Linked DNA regions of Homo sapiens. The protein of the gene in region 2 interacts with the protein of the main gene of each other region in a pairwise test. Each region holds a gene or a part of one and is shown on either strand. Other genes may lie near its edges.

The links.
Region 1: the proteins of CDK11B (region 2) and TPPP interact in a two-hybrid assay, tested with the Homo sapiens proteins (one large-scale study listed by BioGRID and IntAct).
Region 3: the proteins of CDK11B (region 2) and URM1 interact in a two-hybrid assay, tested with the Homo sapiens proteins (one large-scale study listed by IntAct).

The regions. Positions count from the first base shown.
Region 1 is NC_000005.10:665,739-669,382, forward strand, and holds part of TPPP (tubulin polymerization-promoting protein), read right to left. Parts: exon of another isoform or gene 1,126-3,644; intron 386-1,125; coding exon 232-385; exon of another isoform or gene 203-231; intron 1-202.
Region 2 is NC_000001.11:1,638,361-1,642,004, reverse strand, and holds part of CDK11B (cyclin-dependent kinase 11B), read left to right. Parts: intron 1-3; coding exon 4-99; intron 100-184; coding exon 185-343; intron 344-891; coding exon 892-957; intron 958-1,552; coding exon 1,553-1,728; intron 1,729-3,414; coding exon 3,415-3,505; intron 3,506-3,644. UniProt on the Homo sapiens protein: Plays multiple roles in cell cycle progression, cytokinesis and apoptosis. Involved in pre-mRNA splicing in a kinase activity-dependent manner. Isoform 7 may act as a negative regulator of normal cell cycle progression.
Region 3 is NC_000009.12:128,384,850-128,388,493, forward strand, and holds part of URM1 (ubiquitin-related modifier 1), read left to right. Parts: intron 1-2,966; coding exon 2,967-3,048; coding exon of another isoform or gene 3,049-3,052; exon of another isoform or gene 3,053-3,644. UniProt on the Homo sapiens protein: Acts as a sulfur carrier required for 2-thiolation of mcm(5)S(2)U at tRNA wobble positions of cytosolic tRNA(Lys), tRNA(Glu) and tRNA(Gln). Serves as sulfur donor in tRNA 2-thiolation reaction by being thiocarboxylated (-COSH) at its C-terminus by MOCS3.

The DNA.
Region 1 (3,644 bases), on a different chromosome or scaffold from region 2:
CGCCTCCCCAGGCCTCACCCTCCAGGCTATGCCCCATTCATGCCCCTTCTGACCACACCTCCTCAGACCCCACACCAGGCCACGCCCTCCTGACCACGCCTCCCAGGACCCCCCCCAGGTCACGCCCCCAATCCATGTCCCTCCTGACCACCCCTCCCCCAGGCACCACCCACCTTCCAGGCCCCGCCCCCACCCCCTCCAGGCCCCGCCTTCCATCCCCGCCCTGCTCACCGTCACCCCTGAGATGATGGGCGCCTTGCCCTCGATGAGCCTGTGCACCTCGCGAACGGCCTCCTCGCTGCTCTTGTCTTTGAATCGCTTCTTGGCGAGCTCCTCCAGCGCCTCCTGGAACTGCTCAAAGGTGATGGTCCGGCAAGACTTCCCTCTACAGGGGCACAGGCGACTTAGGGCTGGGCGCGGGCCGGCCCAGGGCTGCCCTCCCCACGCGTGGGTCTGAGCAGAGCTGGACAGCCATGGCCCAGCAGCCCACAGGCTTCACCCACAGGCGGCCGCCCTGGTAGCACTGCAAATCCAAACTGTCTTGGAAGAAAGCTTGGCGGAAGCAGGTCCTCTATAAAGCTGGATGCTCACACGGCCCTGCAGGCCGCTCTGACACAGGGTGTGTGCGGGTCTGCACTCTGCTGGGGCAGTGCCGGAGGCCATTAGGCAGCGGAGCCCACCTCCTCCTCCCGGGGCCACCACAGCCCCGCCCAGCTGCGCCGGGAGCTGGGGGTCCTAGGACCTGCTGGGGCCCCGGCTCTGCCTGTGTGTGTTGGGGTCCTAGGTGGAGGTGTCCCCCACACAGGAACATGGTTAGGAGGGGCTGCCGCCCCCGGACACTTGGCAGCATGGGCGCAGGCCCACGCCTCAGATGCCCTGGCTCCAAAACCCGCCAGGCGGCCCCGCTGTGCCCTTGCACTGCTCTGGCCTCAGAGGTGCAGAGCCCGGTGGGCCGGAGGTGCCATGAGAAGCTTCTGGTCACACAACACGCCACATCTAAACACAGTCCACGCCTTACAACATCCTCCCACCACAGGCCATTCAGGCAATTTTAGAGGGTTCTAAACTGACTCTTGGTTTTTATATAATAATTCTAATTAGAAAACATTTTTCTCCTCTGACCAGATCTACCACAACTAACCCAAAGTGGGGTTTTTCAGTGTTTAAAACAAGAGATCCTGTGGATGAGGCTCAGCTCTGCAAAAGGCACCTGCATTTCACCAGGGAAGCCTCTGGACAGCGCGAGAAAGGCTGCACCCAGCAGGCCAAGCATTCCGAGGGCACTCCCAGCTGCAGAATCCACAGTGACCAAGAGTCAGGGGACAAATGACCCATAAAACCCCAGCAAGCCTTTCCAGAAGTCAGTGAGCAGAGGGCCTAGAATAGCCAAAACGATTTCAAGAAATGAGAACAGAGTCAGAAGACTGACTACCCAACTCCAAAGCTCATCGAGGCTTGACTGCAAAGTGGCAGCGACGTGGGCACGGGCACGCGGCCAGCCCCGCAGCCCAGGGGGAGTCTGGCTCAGCCACATGCATGCTGCCCCCCCGATGTCTACAGGTGCAGAGGCAAGCCAGAGAGAAAGGACTGTTTCTTCCACAAGTGGAGCTGGAGCAACTGGTGATCCCTGTGCAAATTAAAATGCACTTTGGTCTATACTGCACACTATATACAAAACTAACTCAAAATAGATGACGGTCCTAATTATGAAACTAAAACTTCTAGAAGAACACCAAAGAGAAGATCTCTGTGACCTGGGGTTAGGCGAAGATTTCTTAGAAATGGCAACAAAACATGGCCTATAGTGGAAAAAATGGATGAACTAGACTTCATCAAAACGTTCGAAACTCTGCTCTCAGAAGACACCGTTAAGGGAATGAGAAGACAAGCCACAGACTAGGAGACATGCCTGAGAAAGGACTTGTCTCTGAGATACACAAAGGAACCTTAAAACTCAGCAGTAAGAAAAAAAATCCATGTGAAAAGACGGGCAGAATATTTGAAGCAGACACCACCAGAGAAGACACGTGCATGCAGACAAGCACACGGAGAGGGGTCCGCGTGGGCCCCATCAGGGAAGTACAGACAAGCACACGGAGAGGGGTCCGCGTGGGCGCCGTCAGGGAAGTACCGACAAGCACACAGAGAGGGGGCCGTGTGGGCGCCGTCAGGGAAGTACCGACAAGCACACAGAGAGGGGGCCGTGTGGGCGCCGTCAGGGAAGTGCGGACAAGCACACAGAGAGGGGGCCGTGTGGGCGCCGTCAGGGAAGTACCGACAAGCACACAGAGAGGGGGCCGTGTGGGCGCCGTCAGGGAAGTACCGACAAGCACACTGGAGAGGGGTCCGCGTGGGCCCCATCAGGGAAGTACCGACAAGCACACGGAGAGGGGTCCGCGTGGGCCCCGTCAGGGAAGTACCGACAAGCACACGGAGAGGGGTCCGCGTGGGCGCCGTCAGGGAAGTACCGACAAGCACACAGAGAGGGGGCCGTGTGGGCGCCGTCAGGGAAGTGCGGACAAGCACACGGAGAGGGGTCCGCGTGGGCGCCGTCAGGGAAGTACCGACAAGCACACAGAGAGGGGGCCGTGTGGGCGCCGTCAGGGAAGTGCGGACAAGCACACTGGAGAGGGGTCCGCGTGGGCCTCGTCAGGGAAGTACCGACAAGCACACAGAGAGGGGGCCGCGTGGGCGCCGTCAGGGAAGTGCGGACAAGCACACGGAGAGGGGGCCGCGTGGGCGCCGTCAGGGAAGTGCAGATGGAAACCACAGCGAGGCCCCTGCACACTCTCCAGGGGGCTCAGACAATCAAATAAACTGCCGGCACCTCGAGCTGAGCAGGCCGCGGGGTGGGGGCCTCGTCCACACCCGGCCGAGCAACGCGGCAGAGCCACTGTGGACAGCTTCTCATCACAGCCAAAGGTGGCCCAGCAGTCCCGTTCCTGGGTCCTTGCTCAAGAGAAATGAAAACAGAGGCTCACACATAAACGCAAATGTTTACCACTGTTCTGCTCGTAGTCACCAAACCCCAAACAATCCAGTGCCCTTCAGCAGCGGCCAGACCACAGTGCTGTGATGTGTGCGCACGTGGACAGCACCCCCACCCCTCGAGAACAAGCCCAGGATACGCACCCAACGCGGTGGGTGCCAAGTGGCCAGGCTTGGAGCCAGGCACGGAGGTGCCGCTGGGTGATTCCCAGACCCCAAGGCGGATGCTGTGTTTAAACAGCACCTGAGGGTTCCCATACACTTTACACGCGTGTCCTAAAGACACAACAGACACCATCAACAGCGCTGAGCCAAAGAAGAAATCGCGCTGAGAAACACACCAAGTGCTCGGGGTCCCACAGCTCAGACCCTCACGCCTCATGGGGTCCCAGGGAGGGGAGCGGAGGCCTCGCTGTGTCCGGAGGGGGCTTTGGGGAGACAGAGCCCCAGGGCGGGGCCTGGACTGCTGAGGGCAGCCACGCAGGGCACATTCCAGACCCGCCGGCCATAGGGCGCTGTTGTCCAGCAGCATCCCCCAGGGGGCGCTGGTGAGCCCGGTGAGCCGGAGGTGCCCTGGGCAGCTCTGTGGCGTGGGGGTCCGCGGTGTTGGGGGTGGATTTAGCCCCTTGACGCGCTCGGCGTGGACACCCGCACGT
Region 2 (3,644 bases):
AAGTAAAAGAAGAGAAAATGGAAGAAAGGGACCTGCTGTCCGACTTACAGGACATCAGCGACAGCGAGAGGAAGACCAGCTCGGCCGAGTCCTCGTCAGGTACCTGGAACCGCCTGGCCAAGGCCTTGACCACTGCTGCCCAGGAAGGCCCAGGTTCACCCTCTGCTCTGCTGTCTTTCTACAGCGGAATCAGGCTCAGGTTCTGAGGAAGAAGAGGAGGAGGAGGAAGAGGAGGAGGAGGAAGGGAGCACCAGTGAAGAATCAGAGGAGGAGGAGGAGGAAGAGGAAGAGGAGGAGGAGGAGACCGGCAGCAACTCTGAGGAGGCATCAGAGCAGTCTGCCGGTGAGGCACCGCGACGACTATGTGAGGTGTTGTGACTTCACTATAGTGTTAGAAACCGCAGAGAAGTAGCTGGCGGGCGGGGGAGTTGAAACTCCCTTCTATCTAGGACTCTCTCGGGACACCTCCACATCGATTCTTTTTGTTTGTTTTTTTGAGATGGAATCTTGATCTGTTGCCCAGGCTGGAGTGCAGTGGCATGATCTCGGCTCACTGCAACCTCTGCCTCCCGGGTTCAAGTGATCCTCCCGCCTCAGCCTCCCAAGTAGCTGGGAGTACAGGTGTGCGCCAGCACGCCCGGATAATTTTTTTATTTTTAGTCGAGACGGGGTTTCACCACGTTGGCCAGGATGGTCTCGAACTCCTGACCTCAGGTGATCCACCCGCCTTGGCCTCCCAAAGCGCTGGGATTACAGGCGTGAGCCACCGCGCCCGGCCTGCATATCCATTCTTGGGAACACTTGTTGCTTAGCTGAAGCGGAGCCCGCATCCTGCCTGTGGCAGCACTCGCCCCGGTGCTGGTCTGAGCAGACGCCTCCTTTCTCTTGCAGAAGAAGTAAGTGAGGAAGAAATGAGTGAAGATGAAGAACGAGAAAATGAAAACCACCTCTTGGTTGGTAAGAACCTCCCTGGAGACAGAGCCCCCTCCTTGTCTGTCTCCGAGTGCAGCAGCCCTCTCCTAAGACAGCCGGTCCTGCGCAGCGTGGGGCACGCCAGGGTCTGGGAGGCCGCCTGATTCGTTGGCCGCTCCAGGCTGTGCCGGTGGGGCCCGCATTCCTCAGCGAGGCACAGTGCTGACCAAGGGCGTCCTGAGTGCCCAGCAGGGCCGAGGAGCTGGGAAGCCCAGGACCAGTTCCCCACAGGGGAGGCCCGTCAGATGGTGGCTCCGGGCCTGTCCCTGCAGAGCAGAGGCCTGGCCCAGCCTCCGACAGGCAGTGAGGTTATGTCCTCAGCCTGGTGGACGTGGATGTGGGCTTGTCCCCCACATGACACCCGACGCCTCCTCCCAGCTCAGCATCCGGGCTCTGTCTCAGCCGAGCCTGCCAGCACTCTTAGGCCTCGGTGCCCTGTGTCCAGGGGACGAGAGCCCAGCGCCAGCACCTCCCAGCGGGACACGGGGCAGCCCTGCCACGCGCTTGATGCCCCCGGGGCAGGAGGAGGTTCATGATCCTTGCTTACTCCTAGCTTCGTAATTAGGTTCAACTTTTCCAGTTCCAGAGTCACGGTTCGACCGAGATTCCGGGGAGAGTGAAGAAGCAGAGGAAGAAGTGGGTGAGGGAACGCCGCAGAGCAGCGCCCTGACAGAGGGCGACTATGTGCCCGACTCCCCTGCCCTGTCGCCCATCGAGCTCAAGCAGGAGCTGCCCAAGTACCTGCCGGCCCTGCAGGTCAGGCCCTCCCCTCGCCCCGGGCCACTGTCCGCATTGGCAGTCGGAGTTACCACAGGGGCTGAGCGAAGCCTGGCCCCCGTGTTGGCGTCTGTCGCCTCACAGGGCTGCTGGGCCCACTGGGGCAGTGACGGGCGGGCACAGCCACTGGCCCCTCATGCTTCTAGGTCCCGCCTCTTTCTCATGCTGGACGGAACTGGGTGGACAGGGAGCTGCCCGCAGGACTGCTCTGCGGCTTGAAAGGCAGCCTGGGCGTGCGGCCGCGCTGCTGTCACTGCTGCCCGAGTTGCGTCCTCCTCCGCACTGGAGAGCAGTGCCTTCCACTTGACCCCTGCGTGGGCGGGTTATGTAGGCACCAAGGCCTTGTTACCGGCATCTGTGCAGGGCTTGGATGGGGGAGCGGCTACGGGAGTCAGTGTAGATGTGTGACCAGAAGCCTTTTGCTTAGGCAGCTATCAATAAGGCAGGATATTGTTGGGAGCGATTTGGAAGGGACAAGCCTGAGAAGGTGCCAGTGGCCTCTGGGGCCTGGGAGACCGGCAGGGACTCGGCCCCCTCCTTGGTGCCTGTGGGCGGAGAGGTTCTCTCTGGCGCATGCAGCAGGCCTCTGTCGACTGCCCTATGCCTTGTGAGCGCCTCTGCCCCTTAGTGCTGCTGAGCGTAGGCGTCGGGCCACAGGCCACCCCGAGTACATGACATCCGGCCTGGGCACCGGCCCCAAGGTACACGGAGGGGTAGGTGCCCTGGCATGGGGCATCATGCTGCGCCTGGCAGGTAGGGCCCGTCCTCAGTGTCATCCTGGTACAAGCAGGGGACACATCCAGTTTGACAAAGAGACTCTTGGGATGGCTTTTTTTTTGGAGACTGGGTCTGTCTCTGTCACCCAGGCCGGAGTGGAGTGGCTTAATCATAGCTCACTGGAGCCTCCCCCTCCCAGGCTCAAACAATCCTCCCATTTCAGCCTCCTGAGTAGCTGGAACTACAGGCGCAAGCCACCATGCCTGGCTAATTTTTTTATTTTGTAGAAAGGAGTTTTGACCGGGCACAGTGGCTCACACCTGTAATCCCAGCACTTTTGGAGGCCGAGGCGGTGGGCGGATCAGAGGTCAGGAGTTCGAGACCAGCCTGGCCAATATGGTGAAATCCTGTCTCTACTAAAAATACAAAAATTAGCCTGGCGTGGTGGTGCGTACCTATACTCCCAGCTACTAGGGAGGCTGAGGCAGGAGAATCGCCTGAACCCAGGAGGTGGAGGTTGCAGTGAGCCGAGATCTCACCATTGCACTCCAGCCTGGGTGACAGAGCGAGACTCCGTCTCAAAAAAAAAAAAAAAAAAAAATAGAAAACAGAGTGTTGCTATGTTGGCCGGGCTGGTCTTGAACTCCTGGGCTCAAGCAGTCCTCCTGCCTTGCCCTCCCAAAGTGCTGGAATTACAGGCCTGAGCCCTTGCACCTGGCTGGGATGGCCTTTTGTTCACACTGGTTTTGTTTCATAATAAAGTGTCAGATGGTTTTGCAAGGAAAGAGACTTTGAAAGAACTGAGCTGCTCCCGGCTCCACCCCCGGCCCAGTCCCAAGGCTCTGCCCTGCACCTGCCCCGTGCCGGGTGTGCCGTGCCTGTGGACGCAGCCGCCCTCCCTCCAGCTGGCATGGCCACTGAGACCTCACACAGGCGCTTCCTTCCCAGGGCTGCCGGAGCGTCGAGGAGTTCCAGTGCCTGAACAGGATCGAGGAGGGCACCTATGGAGTGGTCTACAGAGCAAAAGACAAGAAAACAGGTGGGTGGGGTCCCCTCACCCCACAAAGGCAGGGGAAGTGGGGCAGGGGCTGGCTGCCCGAGAGCTGCGACTGCACCTGGGCCCGCCTCACCTGAGCAGCTACTGGAGGTTGGACCCCTCAGCACCTCTAGAAGCCAGA
Region 3 (3,644 bases), on a different chromosome or scaffold from region 2:
AAACCAGGCCTGTCTGACTCCAGGGTCCATACTCTTAGTCTCTTTCTTCCTCCCTCCTTCCCTCCCTACCTCCCCAGTTGTCCACTCAAGTAATGGTAATGGTAGTGCCATACATTTGAGCTGGATCGTGATTCAAGTGTTGAGTCAGAGACACATGGAAGCACAGGCCTGGGCAGTGGGGCCTGGTTCCCAGGAAGCACATACCTGGGAGATACCGCTGAGGTTCACTGGGAGGGAGAGGCCCCTACGGGAGCAGGCCCGTTCTCAAGGCCTGGCCCCATCTCCTGCTGAGCTTCTTACCTTCTCTGTTCTGCTGCCTTGAACCTGCCCATTCCATCCTGCCCCAGCCTTCCCATGTGTTATCCTTCTGTCCAGAATGCTCCCCACCCCACTCATCCTTCAGACCCGAGCTTCACTGTTTAACACCCTCAGTCAGGCCTCTCCTGATCCCAGATGAAGGAGATAGCATTTGTCACAACTAATTAAGTATGGTATGTCTCCCCTGCTGACCTCTAGCTCCCTGAGGGTAGGTAGCTCTGTTTCCCTCTTGCCCACTACCATCTCCCTAGCATCTTGCACATAGTAGCTGCTCAATAAATATTTTTCTCCTGCATGATCACACGGGATCCCAGGAGGGAGACCGCCCCTAGTAGGAGAGGGAAGACAAGAGGACACAGAGTGGGAAGGTGAAAGTGAGAGTCTCCAGCCCCTATCTATCACAGAGCCATCCATCCCCAAGCCACCAGCCCCTGACTCTGCTTAACCCTTCCTCCTCCCCTGGGCGCCTTTGGAAGCCGACCATCTGGCTTGGAGGCTATTTGCATATTGTCTGTGCCTCAGCAAGCCTAGCAAGATGTCCCTGGGGGTGTGTTTCAGGCCAGGCCGAGTGGCCCTTGCATCCTGCGAAGGGAGCCATGAGTTCCCCCTCTCCCCACCCCCAAATCCAGGCATGGGGGAACAATACGAGTGGCGATGCGGTAGCCTCACCATGGTAACAGGCTATCAAAAATGTGGGCAGGCCTGGGTGGGGGGCGGGCAGAAGAGGGAGGGAGTGACCTCAGCAAATAGGAGCATCATGATAAATGAGCCCGCACTGGGCAGCAGACTCATCCCCCAGCTTGTCCCTCTGGGACTCCATGCTGGTGCCATCGTTTGGATGACTCCACCATGACCACTAGCCCTTCCCCCACCCCCAGGCCTATCCAGAGTGGAGCAGAAGCACCTTCCCTTTGGAGGGAGTCAGGGCTGTCCCCTAATTGAGTCCTGGTTCCATGCAGGCCAGGCACTGCCCAGACCTTCTCGCCGCCTCCACACACACAGGCACACCCCCGCCCGCTAGGGCTGGCTGATGGATGTGTCAGACCCCGGTGGCTCTATCGAGCAGCCACAAGATGTATGGGTTGGCGGCCCACCAGACAGTACCAAGATGGAGGCCAAGGGGATTCAGAGCCAAGGGGAAACCTCTGAAACCCAGACCTCAGGGAGGAACCCAGCCAGGAGTCCAAGTGAGCTGCAGCTAGTTGGAGGCAGCATTTTCCCCATCCCATGCCTGCTCCAGGGACCGTGAAGACTCTGATCTGCTTTGTTTAAAAGGAGACATTAAAATGGAAAGGCGGCAGTCTCAGTCCATGGACACTTTGCCCGTGGCCCTGTGCTTTGCTGGCGTACGATCCAGGCAAGTTGGCACCAAGCAAAGTGGACCATCCAGGCTGCAGGCCTGTCAGAGCGAGGGGGCACGCGTGCCAGCCAGCGTGCCTTAACTCCCTGCCCAAGGCTGGGGCCGTGTGTGCGTGCCACACTGTGGGCCCAGACAGGGCAGAGCAAAGTCTCCCTGAGTCCTAGCCACCTTTCCCTTGCGTACACTCTGGACTCCAGGCAGGAAAATCAAGGCCTCACCTGGGACTTCTCCAGCTTAGCCCTGAGCTTTGTCTCAGGCATTAGTCCAGGACAGCAGACCCCTCTGGACGCTGACTCGGGATGGGGTGCTTAACCCCAACCTGTCTGCTGGCTTCCCAGAGGCGAGTTGTCTCCCTGGGACCTTTATCCTCAAGTCGTCTAAGAGAATGAGAAGGAACTCCTCAGCCTCAGGAGAATGGCCCTGTTTCGGGGGCGGACAGTTGAGGACCATAGGCTTCGAGGTGTTTATAGAGCCACATTTCTGTGTGCTGTGGCCCGATACTGCTGCCCCTAGGAAAGGACAGGTGACCCTGAAGACAGGTGGCTCTGAGCCTCCACATGACATACAAGGAGGCTGGTGGCTCCCCCAGAACCACAAGGAGGCAGATCTCAGTGTTAGCTGAGCTGGAGAGGCCCTGTCACCCGAACCTCTGGCCACCGCTGGCGCGGAGGGCTCTGGAAGCACAGGGTGGTGGCAGGGGAGTGGAGCAGGGATTTGTCAGCATCCCTAGCTGGTGAATGATCCTTCTCTCCCTCTGCCAGAGGAAATTAACTGATGTTATCAGCTCAGCAATTGTTTTTTTCCCCTCACAAAGGGAAATATATGCAGACCCCTCCAAGAGCAAAGCCGAATCCTCCCCATCTGCGACTGGCTGGAGAGATAAAGGTGGAGGGGGCTCTTCAAGGTCCTCTCAGAAGTCCAGCCATGGCAGTTGGAGACTGGCTTCCAGGACTTGTGGGTAGGGGCCTGTCTCCTAACCCTTTAGATGCGACAGTCCTCCCGCCGTCTGCCTTGAATCCCCCCACTATAGGTAAATCCCATTGCCTCTTCTCCAGGACTTCAGCAGTGCCAGGTGCAGCTTTCTCTGAAGATCCACCTGGCAAGTCACTGGCCTGTCCTAACCTGTTTCCTCACCTTTGGAATCTACAAGTTCATGGGCTATCACAGCCTGGTCTAAAAGAAGCCCTCTAAACACCGTGTGTATTTCCTTGTGGGCCAGGCAAGGCTCTGGGGGTGGGCAGGTGCTATTTGGGTTTGACAAGAGTTTGTTCTGTGCATTCCTTTCCAGGGGACATCCGGAACCTGCTCATCTGGATCAAGAAGAATTTGCTAAAAGAGCGGCCAGAGTTGTTCATCCAGGGAGACAGCGTGTGAGTCCCACTCCTCCCTTCCCTGAAGCAGGTGGAGGGAGGGACGGATATTTGAGCCCCCACCCTCGGGTTCAGTCCTGGCCTTCTCTGAATCCGGTTCTCCCCTTCCTCCTCCCTAACTCTTCCAGCTCTGAGATCTGTTTTCAGTTTTCTTGTTACTAAACCGAACTCTTGAGGATTTTTTAAATCCCAGATGAAAGGAGCCTGGTGAATTTCTCAGAAAACTTGGATTCTGCCCTCTGGTTGCCACAGACTTGCTGTGGGACCTTAGGCGACTTACTTCGCTTCTCTGGGCCTCAGTTACTCTCTACACAGAAAGTGCTGAGGAAAAAACGTAGCTAGTACAACTGAAGAGCTAAATATTCTGTTTTATTTCATTGTAATTTAAATAGCCACATGCAGCTAGTAGATTACCATACAGTGCAGCACGGGTCTAGAATTCCAAGGAGTCATTGACTCTGTGCGTGCACACACCCATGCACATGCACACACACTCACTGGGGACACCCCATAGAAGCCCAGTGCAGTCTCCTTGGAAAGGACCAGGTTCCAGTTGCCACGAAGTTACTTCTAAAACAAGGCCAGTCCCCCACGTG